Linked DNA regions of Homo sapiens. The protein of the gene in region 1 interacts with the protein of each later gene in a pairwise test. Each region holds a gene or a part of one and is shown on either strand. Other genes may lie near its edges. The genes, in order: EMC2, SS18L2 and PCDHB12.

What was found.
Region 2: the proteins of EMC2 (region 1) and SS18L2 interact in binary tests that used the Homo sapiens proteins (3 or more experiments, as listed by UniProt).
Region 3: the proteins of EMC2 (region 1) and PCDHB12 interact in binary tests that used the Homo sapiens proteins (3 or more experiments, as listed by UniProt).

What each region holds. Positions count from the first base shown.
Region 1 is NC_000008.11:108,481,561-108,485,313, reverse strand, and holds part of EMC2 (ER membrane protein complex subunit 2), read right to left. Parts: intron 1-3,753. UniProt on the Homo sapiens protein: Part of the endoplasmic reticulum membrane protein complex (EMC) that enables the energy-independent insertion into endoplasmic reticulum membranes of newly synthesized membrane proteins.
Region 2 is NC_000003.12:42,588,871-42,592,623, reverse strand, and holds the start of SS18L2 (SS18-like protein 2), read right to left. Parts: upstream 1,765-3,753; 5' UTR 1,727-1,764; coding exon 1,658-1,726; intron 1,100-1,657; coding exon 1,023-1,099; intron 1-1,022.
Region 3 is NC_000005.10:141,207,046-141,210,798, reverse strand, and holds the start of PCDHB12 (protocadherin beta-12 precursor), read right to left. Parts: upstream 2,081-3,753; 5' UTR 1,892-2,080; coding exon 1-1,891. UniProt on the Homo sapiens protein: Potential calcium-dependent cell-adhesion protein. May be involved in the establishment and maintenance of specific neuronal connections in the brain.

The DNA.
Region 1 (3,753 bases):
TTCAAGTGAATGATCATTTCTTCAAGTAACAATGCTGTCTTAAGCACTTAGTACTTGATTTATGATGTGTTTCTTGTCTTCTGTAATTAACTTAATTTGGCAAACTTCTCATGACCTGTTCAGAAAGATTAAGTGATCAAACACAGGTAACATCATAGAAGTAACAAGCTTCAGGAATTGGTAACCTGTCTCTGACCCCTCTGGCTACAGCTTAACATTATGATTCCCTCACTTCCTACACTCTAAACCATTAGATTAGTTTCTGTAGCTGAATCCTGATTTGAAAAAGTAAATAAAGGATGTTTCTAGGGGAAATGCCAGAGGAAAAAGAAAAAAAGCTTCTCATAAAAATCAAGATCACCTTGCCTTTCAAAAGGCATCACGAATTTAAGGAATTCATATGTTAAATATGGTAACAGCAATATCACATTTAAAATTTTGTCTTTTTATAATTTCCCCTGAGGACTAAAGGCTGTGAGGCATGCTTATTACTTCTGTTATCCAGTTAATAAATTCACTTACACAAGGATTTACCAGAAACAGAAAGCTTTTTCATTTACCACCATTTATGAAACATAAATAGGAACGGTCCTAATCAGATACTTAAAGGTCTAATTCTGAGAAAAAGTTTTATGGGTTGGGGGAGGGGTACAGAATAGGACATCACATAGTAACATTACCACGTAACATTTATTCTAATTGCTTTTAAATAGCAAAGTAAAAATAAAAAAAATTATGTAGAGCTAAAACCATAACATGTATTTTTAAATACAGTATTTTTCTTGGTTTATACTTAAACATAAAAATAATACAGTGTGATCTTTTAAAATTAGCTAATTTTAAAGAGTCAACTGAGATGGTGTCAACATTACTCACAACCAGTGCAATTTAGAATAAACCAAATAAATTTACTTGTGTCAGAACAAATAAAAGAAAGTTGGAAATACAAATCTATCACTTCAAATTTAATCTGACATGCAATTATTCTGTCTATTCCAGAATTGTATGGCAATTTAACTGATTAAGTCAGAATCATTTTTTCCCTCAAATCATGATTTAATTTTCTGTTTCCCAAAAGGATAGTAACAGAATCACTGCTGCAATCATAAATATCATATAAATCACTAGCACAGATTTACCAGTGCAACAAAGAAGGATTTATCTGGAAAATCATTGTGAGTAGGTTCACATTAAAGTTTTTCATGTGCATTAATCAAATGTGTCTGCTTCTACTGAACATGCTAAACCAATTACCTAATTGACGAGCAAATAGTAGCCATATTCTGTTTCATCATTAAGTGGAAACAAAGAAAGAAAAGCAGTTCTTGAAACCTAATTTTCCCTAATTTATAAATACGTAGAAAAATCCCATACGAAATATTATATACTCTATACCGGTTTATATTCCTAGATATGATTAAGAAATTCTCACTGAGATCCCAAAGATTTACCTAGTTATCAAGAATGTCATTCTCTGAAAGTTATATACTCTTTTACATTATTCACAAATACTGTATTTTTGTTTTCATACAGTTAGATTTTGCTTAAGTAAATCTTTCATAATTCTCTGTAAGATCTATAAGAAAACTCACCAGAAAAAAACACAAAAACAACCAAACAATAAAAACTTGCTTATCAAATTCAGAGGTCAGTGATTCATGCATTGTAATAACTGAGATACCTTGCTTGGGCTTAAATTTACCTTTACATAATTTGTGGAAAATACATGGGTAGACAAAGTAATAGGAAAAATGAAATGGACTGTAAATGAATGAATCTCAAAAACATGCTGAGTGAAAGAAGCCAGACACAGAAGAGCACATAACCTATGAACTCATTTATACAAAGTTATAGCACAAGCAAAACTAATGTTTGGTGATAAAAATCAGATCAGTGCTTGTCTGTCTCCCAGTGGGGGATGAGGTTGACTGCAAAATGGCAGAAGGAAAGTTTCTTGGGTGATGGAAATGCTATTTTGAGTGGGGGGCTGGTAAGGGGATGTACACATTTGTCAAAACTCAGACTGTATACTTAAAATATATGCACTTGATTACATGTAAATTATATCTCAATATACCTCAAGGGGGTCTTGTCACACTGAAGAGACAGGGAAAAGGAAAAACATAATAACTTATGTTTTAATTTCTTTAATTCTCAGAATATTTCATTATGGCCATCTTGCAGAAGAAAAGATACAGCAAGAGATGTTAGGTAATTTATCCAAGTTTGCATAGCTAATAATTATATCAGAGTCAAAATTTGAACCCAGACAACATGGGTTCAAATCTGTAATCTTCTCTTTACTACATTGAACTAGCTTCCATGGACGGGACTCATGATGGAACACAAAGATGGACAGAAACACTGGATATCCATATGGGGAGCAATGGACCCCCTATTTCACATCATACATAAAAATCAATTCCAGGCCAGATGCGGTGGCTCACACCTATAATCCTAGCACTCCATTGGGAGGCTGAGACAGGAGGATTACTTGAGGCCAGGAGTTTGAGACCAGCCTGTGCAATACAGCTGGACCTCATCTCTACAAAAAATTTAAAAGTTAGCCGAGCACGGTGACATGCGTCTACAGTACCAGCTAGTTGGGAGGCTGAGGCAGGAGGATAACTCAACCTGGGTGGTTGAGGGTGTAGTGAGCCATGATCATGCCACTGCACTCCAGCCTGGGCAACAGAACCAACCAGATTCTGTCTTAAAAAAATAAAAATTAAAAATTAAAAATAAATCAATTCCAAATGGGTTGTGGATTAAATACGAAAAGTAAAAGAATAGAAATTCTGAAGACACACAGAATTCTTTATGACCGTGAGTAGCAAAAGATTTCTTAAACAGAACACAAAAAACACAAACAAATGACTGAGGCATTCGAACACATTTCATTTCAGAACTTCTATTCATCAAGATCATATGAGCAAAAAAGTAAGAAGTTATACATATTTGCTTATACATATAACTAAAAAAGGGCTCATAAGCAAAAAACTAAAGAAATAAGTCATGCAAACCAATGAGAAAAACATTTCACGAAAGAGGACATCCAAATGGCAACTGATCATCAGGGACATGCAAAATAAAACCATGAAGTACCACTCTACACATGTACCAGAATGGCTGTAATTACAAAGACTGACAGAACCATGTGTTGGTGAAGATGTGGGGCTATTAGAACTCTTACCGCTGGTGGGAGTAAACTAATTTGGAAAATTGCCTTTAACTACTAAAGTTAAATATACATACATTCTATGACCCATATTTTCACTCAAAGGTATACAGAACTGCACATATATTCCACCAAAAGACCTGTACAGCAATATTCAGTATAGTTTATTCAAAATAGCCCAAACAGAAAATATTCCAAATGCATAGCAATAACTAAATTATAACATTCATACAATGAACTACAGAAGAAAATGAATGAACTACAGACACAAACAAGGATAAATCCCATAAACTGAATAATGATAGAAATATGCAAGACAAAAATGAATACATACTGGCTGATTCCATAAACTATAGGGTTATAAGTGAGTACTCTTAAGGAATACAAAAGGAGAAATTAAGAGGACTTACCAAGAGAGCTTTGGGATGCTGCAATGTTTATATTTATTAGCCTGGATACATTTACCTTATATTAGTCACTGAAAGGCACATTTATGACTTGCATCCTTTTTTCTGTTATAATTCTTATTTCTATGTTATTAATTTAGTAAAAATTGATTTTAAAATAGTTATGTC
Region 2 (3,753 bases), on another chromosome or scaffold:
TCTCTACTATTCTATTAAGGTATTCAGTGAGGGACTGTAGGTAATTTTTCTAGGGGGTAGGGATTGTGAAACATTTCTTCAGTAACAATGAAATAATATATTTTTCTATAAGAAATGGGCATAAGGTCGGCCGTGGTGGCTCATGCCTGTAATTCCAACACTTTGGGAGGTCGAGGTGGGTGGATCATCTGAGGTCAGGAGTTTGAGACCAGTCTGGCCAACATGGTGAAACCCTGTCTCTACTACAAATATAAAAATTAGCAGGGCGTGGTGGCACACGCCTGTAGTCCCAGCTACTCAGAGGCTGAGGCACGAGAATTGCTTGAACCTCAGAGGTGGAGGTTGCAGTGAGCCGAGATTGCACCACTGCACTCCAGCCTGGGTGACAGAGGGAGACTGTCTCAAAAAGAAAAAAAAAAAGAAAAGAAAAAAATGGGCGTAATACCTGGACTAGATTCGGAAAAGAGACTCAGACTCTATTTTCTCTCATTTTGGTATCTACTTAGGGAGTGCATTAAATTATTATGCACAATTTACCTTTGACTTAACTTGTAAATCCTTTGTTTGTCTTTGTGTGTGTGTCACTAACAGACTGACGGGAAGTTAGAAATGAGAGGAAGCTTAGCAGTCAAATGGCCTGACCCCTTCACTTAACAGAGAAAGGATGAGGCAGGGATCCAAGATGAGAAAGGGGCCATGGCTCTAATCTCCTGAGCTTAGTTTTCTGTGTGCTCTCACCCCCATCCCTGTTGTCATCAGCCGGCATAGCTTTGAGTGAAGGAGGCTTTGCAGTGAGAATAATTCACATTTTGAAGAAAGAGCCACGTCTGACTCCAGGCTCCGCAGTGTACTCGTTGTATGGTCTTGGGCAGGTTGGCAAACTCTTTGAGCCTCTCTTTCCTCAGTTCAAAGAGGGGCTTAACTGCGATCAATCACCCAAGACTCTTAGTTCGAGAAAGCACCGCATCACACAGGCTTCCCCTCTACCCACAGGTCAGGGGCGCGGGGGTGGGGGTACTTACTGCACGCACTCGTTCCCGCGGCCCTTGTTCTGATACTCCACAATACAGCGGATCAGCTGGTCATTCTCCTCAAGGAGCTGAAAGATCAGAGAAAGAAAGGGTCAGTGCAGGCCGGGCGCAGTGGCTCACGCCTGTAACCCCGGCCCTTTGGGAGGCCGATCTAGGCGGATCACGAGGTCAGGAGTTCGAGACTAGCCTGGCCAACATGGGGAAACCCCATACTAAAAATACAAAAATTAGCCGGGAGTGGCGTCGCGCTCCTGTAATCCCAGCTACTCAGGAGGCTGAGGCAGGAGACTCGCTTGAAGCCAGGAAGCGGTGGTTTCAGTGAGCCAAGATGCACCACTGCACTCCAGCCTGGGCGACAGAGCGGGACTCCGTCTCAAAAAAAAAAAAAAAAGGAGAGAAAGGGTTAGTGCAGTGTGACGTCTGGACGGCGGGGGACCGAACCCCATGCCGGGGTCCTGCCCCGGCGCCTGTGCTGATTTCGTGCCCATCTCACCCCGCACCCCGGCTGCTCAGCACCCTTCACAGTCAGCTGGGAGGCCGCTCACTACAGGATGCTTCTCGCACCCCGCAGCCCCTCGGGATCCCGACTTCTCTCCGCCCGCCCGCCCGCCCGCGTGGATGCTCACCCGCTGGATAGTCTCTTGATTGACTTCCGCCTTGCCCCTCAGCCAGTCCGGTACGAAGGCCACCGACATCCCGAGGAACCTCCGGAACCACGACCGCCAAGCAACTCGACCCACGATAGGTGGGGCCTACGCTCTCGAAGTTGATTGGATGCTCCCGCCTACAGGGCGGGGTACAGAAGGGACGTCATTTGTGACTGGACGCGCAAGAGCTATACTCAGCGCTTTCCTCGGTCCCAGCCCCCAGAACGCCGGGGGCGTTTTCGTATCCTTTGCGCTTGCGCAGTCTGGAGAGCGAAACTTGTGGGTTGGGGCTGGGTCTACTGCTGACCTACCTGGCGTCAGCACCTCCAGTGTTAGGCTGTGCATGCTTTTTTTTTTTTTGAGATGGAGTCTCGCTCTGTCGCCCAGGCTGGAGTGCAGTGGCGCATCTCAGCTCACTGCAAGCTCCGCCTCCTGGGACTACAGGCGCCCGCCACCACGCCCGTCTAATTTTTTGTATTAGTAGAGACGGGGTTTCACCATATTAGCCAGGATGGTCTCGGTCTCCTGACCTCGTGATCCGCCCGCCTCGGCCTCCCAAAGTGCTGGGTGTGCATACTCAATCTATCTGCAGGAGCGGTTTGCTCGGCTTCACCCAGCGTGTCTGGCACCCAGATACATGGCTTCAGATCCATTGTCCTCTCTACATCACTCTGTGCCTCCAGGTCTGCATCTGGAGCATGAACATTGGCTATGGCATTGTCTCCTGCCAGGCCAAATCTGCAGGCCAGGAAAACTCTGGTATTAGCTTTACTCTTTGCTGAACGAGAAATTCGCGTTTTTCCACATAGCCTGGACTTATTTGGGGCAGGAATAATGCTTATTAGGTTGGCAACCCTAAAAAGCACTGGTATTTTCTCCATTTTACAGATGACGAAACAGGTTAAGTAACTTGCCCAAGGTTCCTTAGCAAAGCCAGTCTCTGAATACGGGCAGCCTGGCTTTAGAACTCTCACCCTTAACAACCCGGGACTGCCCAGGCACCATACCGCAAAGGTGTTGTGCCGCAAGATGCAAGGAGGAAGCTGGACATACCTTCTTGGGCCACATGGTTACTCCTGGTGACCACTGCAACTGAATTGGTTGTAGTCTTCTAGACCAGTGGTCCCCAGCCTTTTTGGCACCAGGAATTGGTTTCGTGGAAGACAATTTTTCTTGTCTTCCACGGAGGTGGGGGTGGTTTTGGTATGAAACTCTTTTACCTCACATCAGCAGGCATTAGATTCTCATTAGGAGCGCGCAACCTAGATCTCTTGCAAGTCCAGTTCACAATAGGGTTCACGCTCCTGTGAGAATCTAATGCTCCCGCTGATCCTAATGCCCCCGCTGATCTGAGGGGGCAGAATGCTCGGCGGTAATGCTTATCCGCCCTCTGCTCACCTCCTGCTATGCGGTACCGGTCCCCTGTTCTAGCCATCCGTGGTGGATGTGGTAACAAGATTCGTTTTCCCTGGAGTGAGCAGCGGCCACTTCATTTAGGAGGGAGATCTTGGGAACCTACACTCCTAAAAAGGGGAGGTCCCTAGAGCTTTATTCCCCTGAGTGGTGGCCCTGATCCTGAGCAAGCTCATCTGCTTTACTGGGCTTTCTCTCCACAATCCCTTTATTCAAACCTGTGAAAAGGCAGCTTTCATCCCATTTCTTTTTTCTTTTTTTTTTGAGACAGAGTCTCGCTCTGTCACCCAGGCTGGAGTGCAGTGGTGTGATCTCGGCTCACTGCAACCTCTGCCTCCCGGGTTCAAGCGATTCTCCTGCCTCAGCCTGCTGAGTAGCTGGAATTACAGGTGCCTGCCACCACACCCGGCTAATTTTTTTTTTTGTATCTTTAGTAGACATGGGGTTTCACCATATTGGTCAGGCTAGTCTTGAACTCCTGACCTCGTGATCCGCCCGCTTCGGCCTCCAAAAGTGCTGGGATTACAGGTGTGAGCTACTGTGCCCGGCCTGCTTTCATCCCATTTCACAGAGAGGTAAACCCGGTGAGAGAAGTGAGGTAACACCTGAGCTGGGGCGGACTCAGGGCTTCCTGGTTACCAAGCCTGCACTGTTAACTCCAC
Region 3 (3,753 bases), on another chromosome or scaffold:
TCAGCAGCCTGGCGGTGCGCACCTCGCCATTGTGCGCCCACACGCCGAATAGCCCGGGCTCCGTGGCCTTGAGCAGCTGGTACGACAGCCAGGCGTTCTGGCCCGAGTCACCGTCCACCGCCACCACCTTGGTCACCAGGTAGCCCGGCTCGGCCGCCCAGGGCACCAGCTCGGTGCAGGGCGCGGAGCCGTTCTGCAGCGGGTACAGCACGAAGGGCGAGTTGTCGTTGGCGTCCAGCACCAGCACGCGCACCAGCGCCTCGCTGCTCAAAGCCGGGGAGCCGTGGTCTGTGGCGCCCACGCGGAACTGGAACCCCTGCAGGGCCTCGTAGTCCAGCGACCTGAGGGCAAACAGGTGGCCGTTGTCCGCGTTGATGGAGACCAGGGAGGCGAGGGGCAGGTGCGGGTCCTGGGACGGCAGCAGCGAGTAGTTGACCTGGGCGTTGGTGCCCGAGTCTCTGTCTGTGGCGCTGATGCTGCCGATGTGCAGGGCGGGGCTGTTGTTCTCGCGGACGAACAGGGCGTAGGAAGTTTGGGTGAAGGCGGGGGCGTTGTCATTGACGTCGGAGACCAGCACGGTTATGTTGTGCTCGGTTTTTAGCCTGGGGGTCCCCAAGTCGGTGACGGTGATGGTGATGTTGTACTCGGCTCTGCTCTCTCTGTCCAGCGGTCTCTCTGTTTCCAAAGTGTAGTAATTATTTACCGAAGATTTTAGCACGAATGGGATGTCCTCCGGGATAGAACAAACCATCTTTCCGTTGTCCCCAGAGTCTCTGTCTCGTATCCTGAAAACCATAACCACAGTCTCTGGAGTGTTTTCTGGGATTGGACTGGTAATTGATGACACAGTGATTTCAGGAGCGTTGTCGTTTACATCCATCACCTGAATTCTGACTGTAGATTTTCCAAAAAGTCCTCCCCCATCTGTGGCTTGAATGATTATTGAGTATGACTCAATTGCTTCAAAATCCAAAGGTGCTGTTAAAGTAATGTCACCAGACTTTTGATTAATTTCAAATGTCTTGCGAATATCTTCTGAGGCATGGGAAAAGGTATAGGATAGTTCACTGTTTGTTCCAGAGTCTAAATCCCAGGCTGAGACGGTCACAACCAGGGAGCCAAGGATGCTATTCTCCAGAATCTTCACCTCATAAAAAGCCTGCTCAAACTCAGGGGAGTTGTCATTAATATCTACAACCACCACCCTGACCAAGGCAGTTCCAGACCTGGGAGGGGACCCGCCATCCAGAGCAGTGAGGATGAAACTGAGCTCCGGGCGCTCTTCATAATCCAGCGCCTTGTCCAGAACTAACTCAGGGTATTTCCTATTGTCTGGATTGACTCTTATTTTAACGTGGAAATGAGAGTTCGGATTTATTGTGTAGCTTTTTACAGCATTGATTCCTACATCTAAATCCTTTGCACTTTCAAGCAAGAACACAGCACCAACAGGACTGTTCTCTGGGATTTCTAAGAGCATTTCTTTTTCCAAGAAGACGGGAGAGTGATCATTTATATCCCTGACCTGGAGCTCAATTTGTAAAAACTGCGTGGGGTTTTTCATTAACACTTGGAAATACAGCACACAAGGCTCATTGGAGCCACAGAGCTCCTCCCTGTCTAGCATTTCTCTCAGGAGCAAATCCCCAGTGTTTGTGTCCAGCTGCAAACACTCTTTGTTATCATTAGAAACCACCCGAGCCCCCCGCGAAGACAGCTCACTCACCTCGAGTCCCAGGGTCTTTGCCAAATTTCCTACAAAGCTCCCGCTCTGCAATTCCTCCATCACCAAAAAGTTCCCAGTTTCAGAGCCCGCCTGAGACATTCCCAGCAAAACAAAGAAAAGCAGGACTTGCCTTATCTGCAGAGTGCCTGCCCCTCCGTTTTCCATAGCTTCTTTTCCAAAACCCCAAAATCTTCTTGCAGAATTGCCTCAGCGCCTCTTCGCAGTTGTGGGAAACGTGCCTCTGATCTGTCTACCAAATCCTCGGAAGCCTGAAGATTTTAACCTTGTTGAATGGCTTCTAGGTTCTCCCTTAAAGGATTGTTCTTTCTGTCTTCCCAGTTCTCCGCGTGTACTGGATAACAGGGTCTACAACATCCTCCAGGGTAATTTTTTTCTTGATATTATCCTGCAGCGCCACCACGCGTCTCCACAGATTTTCACAGTTTGATGAACACTACCTAAATTTTATTTACATAAATGTCCTCCAGAAGCAAATAAATATTGCGTTTAAATAATTCCTTCTGTTGAAGTAATTAAAAATATATTTTATCTTCCATAATAATCGTTTTATATTCTTTATAGTTTGTGATGATGATTTTGTTTTAAAGCATTTATTCAGTGTCTTTCCCCACTCTTCTCACAACCAAATGTGTTCAGTTGTGGTAAACACAGATACAAGATGTGATCCCTGGCTCCCAGGAATTCATAGTGTTTCTGAGACAATTGTAAGCCTGAAACAAGCAGGGTATAAGTGATTGTTAAGCTGAATGAAATTCTATTACTACTTGGCTTTCCTTACGTGATAAGGTAAAGGAAAGGTCATCTCAGAAATCCTTTCTGAAGTTATGAAACTGGATTAACCATGAGATGAGGCATATATAGGTCAACACAACAGCATAAAAAGGCACTTCTGTAGATTTCCTTAATAGCAATGAATTGTGAACAGGCAGAAAATGAAGCAAGAGATTGGGGTGGAACATGTTATGTAAACCCATCATTTAGTTCCAGTTTTTCATAATTTACAAAAAAATTCATAAGTACACAAGCATGAGCAAGTTAGTTTAATTTAAAGCAGACTCTTATTCCTAAAGCTGACTTGCCTTAGGTTCCCAAAATTTATTGTAGCCACAACTGTAGCTATCTGTTTTCTCTTTCAGCCCAGGAAGAGAAAGTAAGAGTCTATCCCTAAACATAGAACAAAAACCTAACTTTCACTCTAATTAGACCAAGTAAGATCATGTGTCTGCCACTGAAGCAATCATTGTTTCAAGAGGTATAGAATTATAGTTGGAGATTTTAGTCCTAGAATCTAAAGACCTGTCTCTGGCCATTACTGTGTTTTAATCCTGTCTGGGACCACCTCTTAAGCTTGGGAAGGTTTCAGTCCTAGCCAAAGTACCTCATTGGTACAAAATGAGGGAGACTGTTTGCAACAGATGCTAAGGGCTCATCAGTGATATTCACTATAGAAAGTCTTAAAGTGCACTAAGAATGGATGGGAGAAGAATCCAACAAGTCTGCATTTTAAAATGTTAAATTCAATTAATATTCTTAAAAATGTAAGCTGGATACATGGTTGAAATAGTAATTGGTACAGAAGGGTAAAACTTGAAAAGTAGATGAATTGAGCACACACAATTAACCTCTCTTTTTAAAAAAAAATATGCACTAAAATGGCAGAAAAGTAATTAAAATGGTAGGAACTAACAAAGATTAAGAATACACAAGTGAACACATACATTTTTCTATGACAGAAAGCAGGTGGAAGAGCAATTAACTTAGCAGTTCCAAAAAGTGCCCCTAAAGTAAAGTTCCTGCATTGAAGATACTCACAAGAAACATAATCTCTTTTAAGCGCAAGATCTGGAGGAACCAGATGTTTAAGAAGACTGAAGTCAGTTAAGGATGGAAAAAAGTTATTAGTTGGAAGTATGTGTAGAGGATAATTGAATTCTCTGTTCTTCTCATCACCCTACATAGATGGAAACATAACTCACAGCCAGAAAATAGAAAGTTTATTCTCTGGA